Linked DNA regions of Homo sapiens: all the other regions are linked to region 4. The links come from fine-mapping of genetic effects on gene expression. A gene starts in region 4. Each other region holds a variant in brackets. All regions are shown on one strand. Distances are from middle to middle. Region 1 overlaps SERPINB6 (serpin family B member 6). Region 2 overlaps SERPINB6 (serpin family B member 6). Region 3 overlaps NQO2 (N-ribosyldihydronicotinamide:quinone dehydrogenase 2). Region 4 holds the start of LINC01011 (long intergenic non-protein coding RNA 1011).

Region 1 (2,686 bases), 25 kb after region 4:
ACATAATTCTAAATCATACTCAGGAAATACTGGTGTACCAATTTACAGTATTGTTACTGATCGTGGGTTCTTAGATTCTCATGCAGTGGAAATTGACATGAGACAGAGAAAGTGTCCCAGACAAGGCTTTATAATGGGCTTATGCTGGAGCAGGAGGGCAGCGGCACAGGGGCAGGAGTTCCCGGGCTGGCCCTCGGGACAGGTGTTCCTGGTGTTTTAGGGTGACATGGATAGTCATGAGGTGTGTCAGCAGCATTACACACGCTAGTGGCAGGCACCGGGGAACATCATGTTAGCACAGATGTGTCATGATCAGGGCATGGCAGATGAGCCCCTGAGGAGAGGGTTTTAGTAATACAACAAGGCAAGAGGTCAGGATCGTCGTTCTGATCCTGTATGCATGTGGGCATCAGGCTTAACTCCCTTGGGTAAGATTTGGGGTGGAACATGGCTTATCTTGTTTCCCTCCCTGGTTTGCATGGTCTGGTGGGCAGGTGTGATGGCGTGGGGGATGTATGGAAAATACGGGAGTGGGTACGGGCCAAGCTCTGTCCCTGCTGCCTCCGTATTACTTGCATGGCGTGAGAAGGATTGCCTGTCTTTGTCAGTATTAGCATGAATTGTTTTTGTATTTGCAAGGTTCATGGTTTGAAAAGGCATCTTTAATGTACTCTCCACCATTGCTTTTTGGGAAGGCTGTGCACCATGGTGTTAAGAGAGTGAACTACAGAGCCATGCGGTCCTGGCTTCCAGCCGTCATTCTGCCATTGTTGCCCTGGGTTCTCTGGAGACATGGTACTTAAAGAGCTAAGGCCCGATTTCTTTGCTTATAAAACGTAGGTGTTCTCAGCAGCTATCTCAGAGGGTAAGGGTCTTTCAGTGTGGACCTAGCACATAGTATATATCAAAAAAGTGATATTTTTTTCTGAAGTTGAAACTTTTAAATATAATTATTAGCTATTGTCTTTCTTTTTTGGGGGTAAATTTGTTAATGTCCTTTGCACGTGTTTCTACTGGGGTCTGTTTTTCCTATTTTTTTAGTAGCCCAGTTAC[T/G]CCATTATTTTTCAGTTTTAAGAGTATTTTACTGATTCTGGCTGCTTTTTGGGTAGACCATCAAATTGTTTGCTAACTGTGCTCATTTTGTCTCCTTTCTGACAATCTCCTTTCTCATTATGTTTCATGAGTTGTATTTGCCTTTGCCAGAACTATCTGAACAAAGTTACACAAGGTTGGGACGACAGATATTTTTATCTTGTTCCTGTTTGGGGAGTTAAGGGACTAATGTTCTATCATCAGCTGTGCTGGTGGCTGCTGAAGTAGGTAATTCTTACCTTGTTAAGGAAGCATGGGAAGTACCACTTGCTGTTTGACGTAAGGGTGTTTATCAGGAGTAGGATATTCAGTTATTTAATGACTAACATAGTTTCTGCTAAGAAAATTAAATCTCTAGGACATCCTTGATTTATTGTTTCTTTGTTGCTCAGCAATTTTTATGTAAGGCATAGATAGAATTTTACCTTTCACGGCTGTCAGCAGTGTTTTCAACTAAGAAATGGAATATCATTACTGACCTCACTGTGGGCTTTGAAAATTGAGCTACATTTTTGCTCTTCCTTCTGCATTTGGTATTAACAATTATTGAATGTTAGAGATGGAAGGGAACCCAGATTATCTGGTATATGCTTTTCCTCATACAGAGAGGAAACTGGTATCAGGAGTCCAGTGATTTGCCCAGGGTACCAGAGCCAGGACTAGAGACCCTGTCTTCCTCCTGACTCGTGCCATCTCCTCCGAATATCCTGGTCTGGTTTCTCCAGTTCAGTGTTTCAGATTAAATCCCCTGACACAGTAAAACTCATGTGCACTGACTTCTCCTCCGAATATCCTGCTTTGGTTTCTCCAGTTCAGTATTTCAAATTAAATCCCCTGACACAGTGAAACTCATGTGCACCGACTTCTCCTCTGCCCCAGATGGTGTAACCTGGGCTGGCCAGACAGGCACCTCCCCAGTGGGCGTGTCTTCAGACAAAGGTGGCTTTGCTTTGTTGAAGTTACTGATATAAAGATCAGCGCCTGAAACAGATTCTCCGGGATATTACCGGAGACGGAGTGTTTTATTATTAGCCTTTCTTAGGTGGACATTTCCATTTGAATTAAAAGTCCTTTAGGCTGGGCGTGGTGCATGGCTGTAATCTCAGCACCTTGGGAGGCTGAGGCAGGAAGATCACTTGAGGCCAGGCGTTGGAGAGCAGCCTGGGCAAGGTGGCAAGAACCTTGTCTCTACAAAAAAAAAAGCGTAAGAGTCCTTCAGCATTTGAGGGGAAAACGTGTGCTGACGGTAGAATAGTCTAGGATGGGGTTGGGGGAGCATGTGGGACCTTCCCCTGGCCAGCTGACATGGTACTTAACCTCTGTCTTTTTTTTTTGGTTTATGGAGGAGCCATCTCACCTGGCAGCCTCTCCACGTGGGCTGAGCCCTCTTGGGGACAAAGACAGAAGTCCATGTCCCCAGGCCAGGGAAAACCCCACGTGTCAGGGTGTCTGCTGGCTTTGAGTCCTGAGACACGGACTTCACAGGCTGTGCTTCTTGCTTTGGGGCATCTCCTCTTTTCTTATTCTTAACCTAGAAGTTTCCCTGTTTTACCAATTGTTTCTCTTCAAGTTGATAAGCGGGCAGTTCTTGTGA
Region 2 (2,686 bases), 36 kb after region 4:
CGTGCACTTGACTGCTGAAGGAGAAGGCCCCAGCCGATTCCTGATGTGTCGGGGATCCGCAGCCGCCCCTATCTAATGCGGTCTTGAATTCTTCCGCTCAGGTAAAATTGCGGAGTTGCTCTCTCCGGGCTCAGTGGATCCATTGACAAGGCTGGTTCTGGTGAATGCTGTCTATTTCAGAGGAAACTGGGATGAACAGTTTGACAAGGAGAACACCGAGGAGAGACTGTTTAAAGTCAGCAAGGCGAGTAAGGGGCCGTGACAGGAGCAGCGCCTGTGTTCACACGAGCGTCTCCGGCTCGGGGCCTCCCGCGTCTGCAGCCGTGGGGCCTTTCTGTCCCTGCCCCTCCTGCTTGACATCCATTGGGTGGCCTCGTGTCCCTGGGCGCCTGGCATCCGCCCTGCCACCTACAGGGCAAGTCTGAAGCTGCAGCCCTCAGGCTCGATCAAGGTCTTAAAGCTCAGACTCCAGATATGGCGTGCCATCTTCTAGCGGACATTTCCTCCTTTTCTCTAGCTTCATTCCCATCAGGACCTACCCACTCCTTTCTTTCTGGCGGCGTCCCGGGAAGCCCCGCTACCGCGCCTCCTGCTGGCCTCCGTGCCACACTGCAGGAGCGGAACAACTCAGCCTGCTGAATTGAGGCTGAGCAGGGAGGACTCTCTGACAAGTGCCAGACACGTAGCTGGTGCTTAGTAAATGCTGAACCGATGAGTGATATTCAGTCCTCTCTTGATAGTAAGGATAAGTACAGATTTTTGTTTTAAAACAACCAAACCAAACATGTAGATAGACACTGAGATTAACCACCTCCAGCGTGGAAGATGTCATTTGCTGATGGCCCTTTATCTTCCTCTCACTGAATCTTCTTTATTGTCTCTTGTTTTGTTTTTCTTTAACTATAGAAATTTTTGAACATAGACAAAGTAAACAGAATAGATTAATTACAGTGTATTCTTGATCATTGACCATAGTTAGATCTTCCAGGCTAACTTGAACTTGAGCCTTCAGTTTTTCAAGAAATTTATTTTCATTGTCTGTTCTCCTCGCAATTCAGAAAGAATTATTTTCTTTGAAGCTTTATTCTGAAATGAACTGTGCTATTTTCCCCTGGCAAAATAATTTCTCTCTTTAAAATTTAATGATTAACAAGATGTACAAGGGCTTTGACTACAGATAACAGA[A/C]ACCCCGGTTCACCATGGTTTATCTCCTAGGAGCTCATCTCCCCTGCTAGGAGGTCTGGAGGCAGGTGAGACCTGGGCTGGTCTGGCACTGGGGCGATGATCCCAGGGAGGCGGCTCCACCATTCTCAGCACGTCGCCTTCTTCCTCATGGTCACAAGATGGCTGAGCTGGCTTCAGCAGTCCCGGTGGCAGGGAGGGGGAGGAACAAGGGAGGGGAGGGGAGCCTAAACCTTCCCCTTAGTGGTTCTGCGTTTCAGAAAGGGAAAGCTGCTTTCTATATGGTGTAGGCCAGAACTATAGGTCTTGTGGGTTTGGGGAGATGTGGAATCCCGTCATGCTTTCTGAGTTCTGCAGTGAAGAAGGGTGAAGGAAGGGGCTGCAGTATTGAGCGTACCAGCCTGAGGCCAGAGGTGTACCTCCAAGGGCACAGATTTTGAGTTGATACAGATTCTTATTTTAATTTCATTACCTTCTATATAAACTGGAACTTGTCTATATAATTGTGTATTTAGTGAATCATTCAGTCACTAAGGTTAGATCTTTTTATATTGCAAGATTGGAGGCTTTGGACCCTGAAGGGGTGCAGGGAGGAATTACTGAAGGCAGGGGTCAGCAAACTTCAGCCTACAGCAAAGCCAGCCCACCACCTAATTTTTTTTAAAGGTTTACTGAAACACAGCCATGCTTATTTTTTTTTTTTATTTTTTATTTTTTCCAAGACAGAGTTTCTCTCTTGTTGCCCAGGCTGGAGTGCAGTGGTGCCATCTCGGAACACTGCAGCCTCCGCCTCCCGGGTTCAGGTGATTCTCCTGCCGTGGCCTCTTGAGTAGCTGGGATTACAGGTGTGTGCCACTATGCCCGGCTAATTTTTGCATTTTTAGTAGAGACGGGGTTTCACCATGTTGGTCAGGTTGGTCTCGAACTCCTGACCTCAGGTGATCCACCTGCCCGGGCCTCCCACAGTGCTGGGATTACAGGCGTGAGCCACCACGCCTGGCCCATGCTTATTTACTTACTTATTTCATCCTGTAACAACAGCTGAGTCGTTGTGACGGAGATGGTACATGTAGCCACAAACCGGAAAATAGTTCCTGTCTGGTCAGTTATGGAAGAAACATGCCTACTGCTGGCCAAGGAAATGAGTGGGGCAGCCGAGGCCCAGGAGACTGCTCTAGCCAAAGGCTAAGGGCCAGCCCAGGCGAGCCTCTACCACGTGAAAGCAGAAAGCTGCCGCCGCAGTGTATTTTATTTATTCCATTTAACACAGAAGAATGTGCTACACCAGAGACTGGGGACCATACGGCGTCTTTGACTGTGCCTATTGCAGGGTATTTACTCAACTCACAGGAGCAGCTCCGAGTCAGGAACTGAGGGGGATTGTTGGATGGGGTGTGGTTCCTGGCCTCCAGTCTTTCTCATTGGCTGGCTGGGGTTGGTGACCAGTGCAGTTTTTTCTGGTGAGATGTGTAAATGTTGCCTGGCCTTTTTAGCATCCCAGCTC
Region 3 (2,686 bases), 24 kb before region 4:
AGCAGCTACAGCTCTGTCCTTGGGATCCAGGAGGCCCAAGTGACCAGAGCCCTTATAATAGATTCCCCTTTCCTTCTAGTTGGACAGGAATTTCTGTCACCCAACAATTCCCTCAAAGCTCATGTGCGTACTCTGCTGCCAGGTTTACACAGCCACAGCCATGCCTGCACATCTTCCTTGCAGTGGCGGGAAGTGGCCTGATGAGTCAGCACTCCTGGAGGGCATTTTGCTGGGCCAGTTCACTCTGCAGTGGCATCACCTCCTTGTGAACAAATACAGGAAGGTGGCTGGGCTGGGGGTGAAGCAACCACTGAGAGGGTAGAAACCAGAGATTTTCCTCTTAATGATCAGGATATTTAAGGCAGGATATTTAAGGAGATGCATTTGGCCTGATTTACCCTGATAAACATTTGTGCAGATAAATGTGGTTCTCAAGCAGCCCCAGAATGTCTCAGGGCAGGAACGGGAAGAGAAGGGAAGCAACAAGACTGGCAGGTTTCAGATGATTCTTGGACCACTGGAATAATGGAAATATCCTTCATTCCTATTTACATGGCAGTCGGGATTTGGAGTGAGTGATATTGGCTACGTGGATATCTTTACCCAATTAGGTAAAGTGTTTAAAGTAGTGTTACATCGGCCGGGCGCGGTGGCTCACGCCTGTAATCCCAGCACTTTGGGAGGCCGAGGCGGGTGGATCACGAGGTCAGGAGATCGAGACCATCCTGGCTAACACGGTGAAACCCGGTCTCTACTAAAAATACAAAAAACTAGCCGGGCGTGGTGGCGGGCGCCTGTAGTCCCAGCTACTCGGGAGGCTGAGGCGGGAGAATGGCGTGAACCCGGGAGGCGGAGCTTGCAGTGAGCCGAGATCCCGCCACTGCACTCCAGCCTGGGCGACAGAGCGAGACTCCGTCTCAAAAAAAAAAAAAAAAAAAAAAAAAAAGTAGTGTTACATCTACGTACAGTGTTTAAAGTAGTGTTGTAACTAGATGAAGTGTTGTAACTAGGTGAAGTGTTGTAACTAGGTGAAGTGGTGTAACTAGGTGAAATGTTGTAACTAGGTGTTGTAACCAGGTTACAATATTTGCTCAGTAAGTGTGCAACTGTGCTCAAAACATTGATGCCACTTCCAGAAGCAGCACAAAACTCAATATTCAGAAAGAGTTTGTACATAAGATGAATCTGATTCAATATATTAATTAGAGAAAAACAAACCTGAAATATCACTAGGTCAGCCTCCCGAACCTTTTTCTGCTCATCAGTGATGTCGCTAGCCAGAGACCTTTGCTTGTAGGCTTCGTGGGTTTCCACTCCATAATTGAAAACCTCAGGATTAGAAAGAGTACCTGTCGGGGAAGAGGCCAAACATTCTCACT[C/T]CTAGGTGGGCATCCACAGCCCATCCCAACCATCCCAGTAGCACTGTGTATACCGGACTCCTCAGACAAGTCAAAGACATTTGCTGCAACCTGACCAGAAGCTGCACCCTGGGTCCGAGCTAGGGAAAGAGAAGCAGTCTGGGAGGGCTGCTGATTGAGCACTTGCTACCTAGCAGGTGCTGTGCTCTACACACATCACCTTTCTTCATAACAACTGGTGAGACTGGTGTATTTCCCAATTTACCAGAGAGCAAACTGACACCCAAGAGAGGCTGGATGTCTTGTTCAATGCCAAACAGGTCTAAAAAAATAAACTCTACGCTTTAATTTCATGCTCACCTCCACATTTTTGAGTATCTGTGTCTTGATTTACATATTTTATATTGCTTATCTTTGGCTCTTAACAGGTCACGTAGTGATTATTGTTTTTGATAGATTTGTCTGTTAGACTTAATACTAGTAATGAGTGGACTGTACACAATTACAGTATTAGAGTGTTCTGTGTACTTACTTTTACCAGTGGGTTTTACATCTTCAAATGTTTTCTTTTTGCACATTAGTGTTTTTCTTTCTTATTGAATTCCCTTTAGCATTTCTTGTAAGGTGGGTCTGGTGGTGGTGCATTTTCTCAGCTTTTCTTTGTTTGGGAAAGACTCTCTCTCTTTCAGAGTTGAAGGCTAGATTTGCTGGGTACAGTATTCTTGGTTGACAGTTTTGTTCTTTCAGCACTTTGAAAATGTCCCACTACCTCCTGGCCTATATGTTTTCTGTTGAGAAGTCTGTTGCCAGATGAACTGGAGCTCTGTTACATGTTATTTGCTTTTAGGATCCTCTTTTTGTTCTTGACCTTTGAGAGTTTAATAATTATATGCCTTGGGGTAGTCCTATTTGAGTCAAATCTGTTTATTCTATGACCTTCCTCTACCAGGATATTTATCTCTTTCTGAAGTTTTGGAAAATTTTTCTGTTATTATTTCTTTGAATAAGCTTGCTATGCCTTGCTCTTGCTCAGCTTCCTCTTAAGCACCAATCATTCTTAGATTTGGTCTTTTGAGGTAATTTTCTATATTTTGTAAGAAATCTCCATACCTTTTTCTTTTTTCTCCTCTGTGTATTTTCAAATCACCTGCCTTTGAGTTCACTGATTTTTTCTTCTGCTTCATCCATTCTGCTGTTGAGAGCCTCTAATGAATTTTTCAGCAAATGTATTTCTAGTTCCAAGATTTCTGTTTGATTTTTTAAAAATTATTTCAATCTCTTTGTAAAATTTAACTGATAAATTTCTGAACTGCTTTTCTGTGTGATCT
Region 4 (2,686 bases):
TTTAAACTAAATTGTATGTATTATAGAACAGTCCTCTGCGCTGAGCTTGGACTTAAAGTGGAAAGGCTTACATTTGCAGAATTAAAAAAAGCATCGAAACATTCTGTGGCAGGAAGTCCTGCGAGCCTCCTCGCCCCAGCCCGGTTTCCCGCGGGCCCCAGCCTCATCCCCCAAGGCCCCACCCTGAGAGCCCCCAGGTCCCAGCCGCGTCCTCCTGGACCCCTCCCAGGCGTGGCGAGCCGGGTCGCGGGAGCGCTCCGCCACCAGGGGACAGTGCGGCGCCGACCGTGGGCTGCTGGCTCGGCCGAGGGCACCCAGGCGCCCTCCGCTGCAGCGGGCTGGTTGCAGAGGGGCGGGCTCTCGCCAGGCAGCAGGCGCTCCGGGCGCAGCTGGGAGGAAGGAACGCCCCCGGGAGTGGGCGGCGGCCGAGGGACCCTGCAACCGTCCTCCCTGGAGGAGGCCCCCGCAGCTCCCGCAGCCCCCCTCATCCCGGACGGGCCGGGGATTGGGACTGGCCTGGGGTCTCCTACTCTCCTACTCCGCGCAGGAAGTAGCCCCTTGGCAGGACCGGCGGTGCCTGCTGCTTTCAGGAGCCCCGAGCCGCTTTTGTCTGGGTGCAGCTCAGCTCACATCCCCGATGCAAGTCTTTCCCGGCTCGTCTCCCCTTCTTCCCGGAGTCCATGCCTTGCTGTCGGTGACTCATCCCACACTGTGCCCTGCGACTCACCCTGTCGCTTTCTCTGTTCATCCGGGAGCGCGGCGCCATCTCCCTCCAGCCCCGCCTCCCCTACAGTGCTCCGTGCTGAGGTCGCACGTTCTCTCCTCCCTCCAGCTCCCTGGCTCTTGGCCCTTCCCAGGCCACCAGGCGACAGCAGCCTCCGCCTTCATTTCCCTTGGTCATTTCAGGCGCATGCTTGGAGGATTTCAGGATCTGACTCAGCTTCCCCGCCATGCATCCCTCCACCAGCATCCAGTCACACCTCTGCAGCCTTCAGTGTCCTGGAAAGGACTGACCAATCTGACCCATTAGAACCTACCCAGACCAATTTGAAGGCCACTGCCCCTCAACCGTGGCCACCCACTCCTGCCCCACCTGGAGCCCCAAACTGCTCAGTTCCTTCTCTAAAACTCTGCCCTCTTTTGTTTGTTGTGAATAACTGTCTTCCCTGGTTCTTTCCACACCTCTCTGGCCTCTCCTTGTCTTTTTCTGGTTCTTTTTTTCTCTATTCTCCCTTATGCACTGGCCTTGCTGGAGGTCCCTGCTCTCCCTGCAAAACCTCACCACACCCTTGACTTCAGCTATATCCATTTCACCTCACGTTGACATCTGGTGCCTAGACCTCTCTCCCGAGCCTTCCACACCATGCCAAAAATGAAATTCATTTTCTCCTCTAAATTTGCTCACCTTCTTGTTTTCCCAATCTTATTTATTGTCACAGCCATTCCCCTGCTGGTCCAAGTCAGTAGTCTGAGAGTCATGCTAGACTCCTCCTTCCTTATCTACCCATCCACCAATCCCCAAGCCCTGTCTATCCTCCTTTTTTTTTTTTTTTTTTTCCAGTCAGAGTCTTGCTGTGTTGCCCAGGCTAGAGTGCAATGGCACGATCTCGGCTCACTGCAATCTTTGCCTCCCGGGTTCAAGTGATTCTCCTGCCTCAGCCTCCTGAGTAGCTGGGATTACAGGCGCATGTCACCACGCCCAGCTAATTTTTGTATTTTTAGCAGAGATGAGGTTTTGCCATGTTGGCCAGGCTGGTCTTGAACTGCTGACCTCGTGATCCGCCTGCCTCTGCCTCCCAAAGTGCTGGGATTACTGGCATGAGCCACTGTGCCTGGTCATCTATCCTCCTTTTTAAATAGCTCTGCCATGTGTGCCTGTCTCCCCTGACAGCTCACCCTCATCCTATTTGTCCACATTGCTGCAGAGTAGTCTCTTCCATACACCAGGAGTTCCCAACCCCCGGGCCACAGACCTGACTGGTCTGTAGCCTGTTAGGAACCAGGACACACAGCAAGAGGTGAGCCACCAGTGGGTGAGCTAGTGAAGCTTTATCTGTATGTGCAGCTGCTCCCCATTGCTTGCATTACCACCAGAGCTCTGCCTCCTATCAGATCAGGCAGCATTAGATTCTTATAGGAGCACAAACCCTACTGTGAACTGCACACATAAGGGATCTAGGATGTGCGCTCCTTATGAGAATCTAATGCCTGATAATCTGCCGTTGTCTTCATCACCCCCACATGGGGCCAGATAGTTGCAGGAAAACAAGCTCAGGGCTCCCACTGAAAATAAAGTGCACAAGAAGTGTCATGTGCTTGAATCATCCCGAAACCATCCTCTGCTGTCCAAGGAAAAATAGTTTTCCACAAAACCCCTCCCTGGTGCCAAAAAGGTTGGGATGGTTGCCATACATAACTCTGATGATGAGACCACGAAGCTCAGAATCCTCCAGAGGCTCTCCACTGCCTGTAAGATGAAATAAAATTTATGGGTGTGACTTATCCATAAGGGCCCAGTCTAAACTGCCTCATATTTAATTATATAGTAAGCTATTTGTTTCCTCAAACGTATATATTTTGGCCCATTTCCCAGTCTCCTAGGTTGGAATATGCTCTGTGTGTCACCTGGCCAGCTCATGCTCTTTCTCATTCTCAGCTCAAGTGTTAGGGACTCTATGACACCTTT

The links. PIP is the estimated chance that this variant, and not a neighbour inherited with it, causes the effect.
Region 1: its variant is fine-mapped to the expression of LINC01011 in whole blood (INTERVAL, PIP above 0.99).
Region 2: its variant is fine-mapped to the expression of LINC01011 in whole blood (GTEx, PIP above 0.99).
Region 3: its variant is fine-mapped to the expression of LINC01011 in whole blood (INTERVAL, PIP above 0.99).

Annotation. Positions count from the first base shown.
Region 1 is chr6:2,961,504-2,964,189 of GRCh38, reverse strand. The region is part of intron 1 of SERPINB6 (serpin family B member 6); the gene reads left to right. Among named protein-coding and RNA genes, the nearest start is that of SERPINB6, 8.7 kb to the left of the region's middle. The variant T/G (reference allele first, on the strand shown) is at 1,054.
Region 2 is chr6:2,950,602-2,953,287 of GRCh38, reverse strand. SERPINB6 (serpin family B member 6) reads left to right here. Exons shown (of 7, transcript NM_004568.6): 5 at 102-244. Among named protein-coding and RNA genes, the nearest start is that of SERPINB6, 20 kb to the left of the region's middle. The variant A/C (reference allele first, on the strand shown) is at 1,186.
Region 3 is chr6:3,011,207-3,013,892 of GRCh38, reverse strand. NQO2 (N-ribosyldihydronicotinamide:quinone dehydrogenase 2) reads right to left here. Exons shown (of 7, transcript NM_000904.6): 4 at 1,219-1,349. Among named protein-coding and RNA genes, the nearest start is that of NQO2, 13 kb to the right of the region's middle. RefSeq lists an enhancer at 1-78. The variant C/T (reference allele first, on the strand shown) is at 1,380.
Region 4 is chr6:2,986,751-2,989,436 of GRCh38, reverse strand. It overlaps LINC01011 (long intergenic non-protein coding RNA 1011), which reads right to left and starts at 1,470. Exons shown (of 3, transcript NR_026856.1): 1 at 1,406-1,470. NQO2-AS1 (NQO2 antisense RNA 1) reads left to right here. Exons shown (of 2, transcript NR_186367.1): 2 at 1-101. RefSeq lists a silencer at 106-525 and enhancers at 1-718, 719-1,528.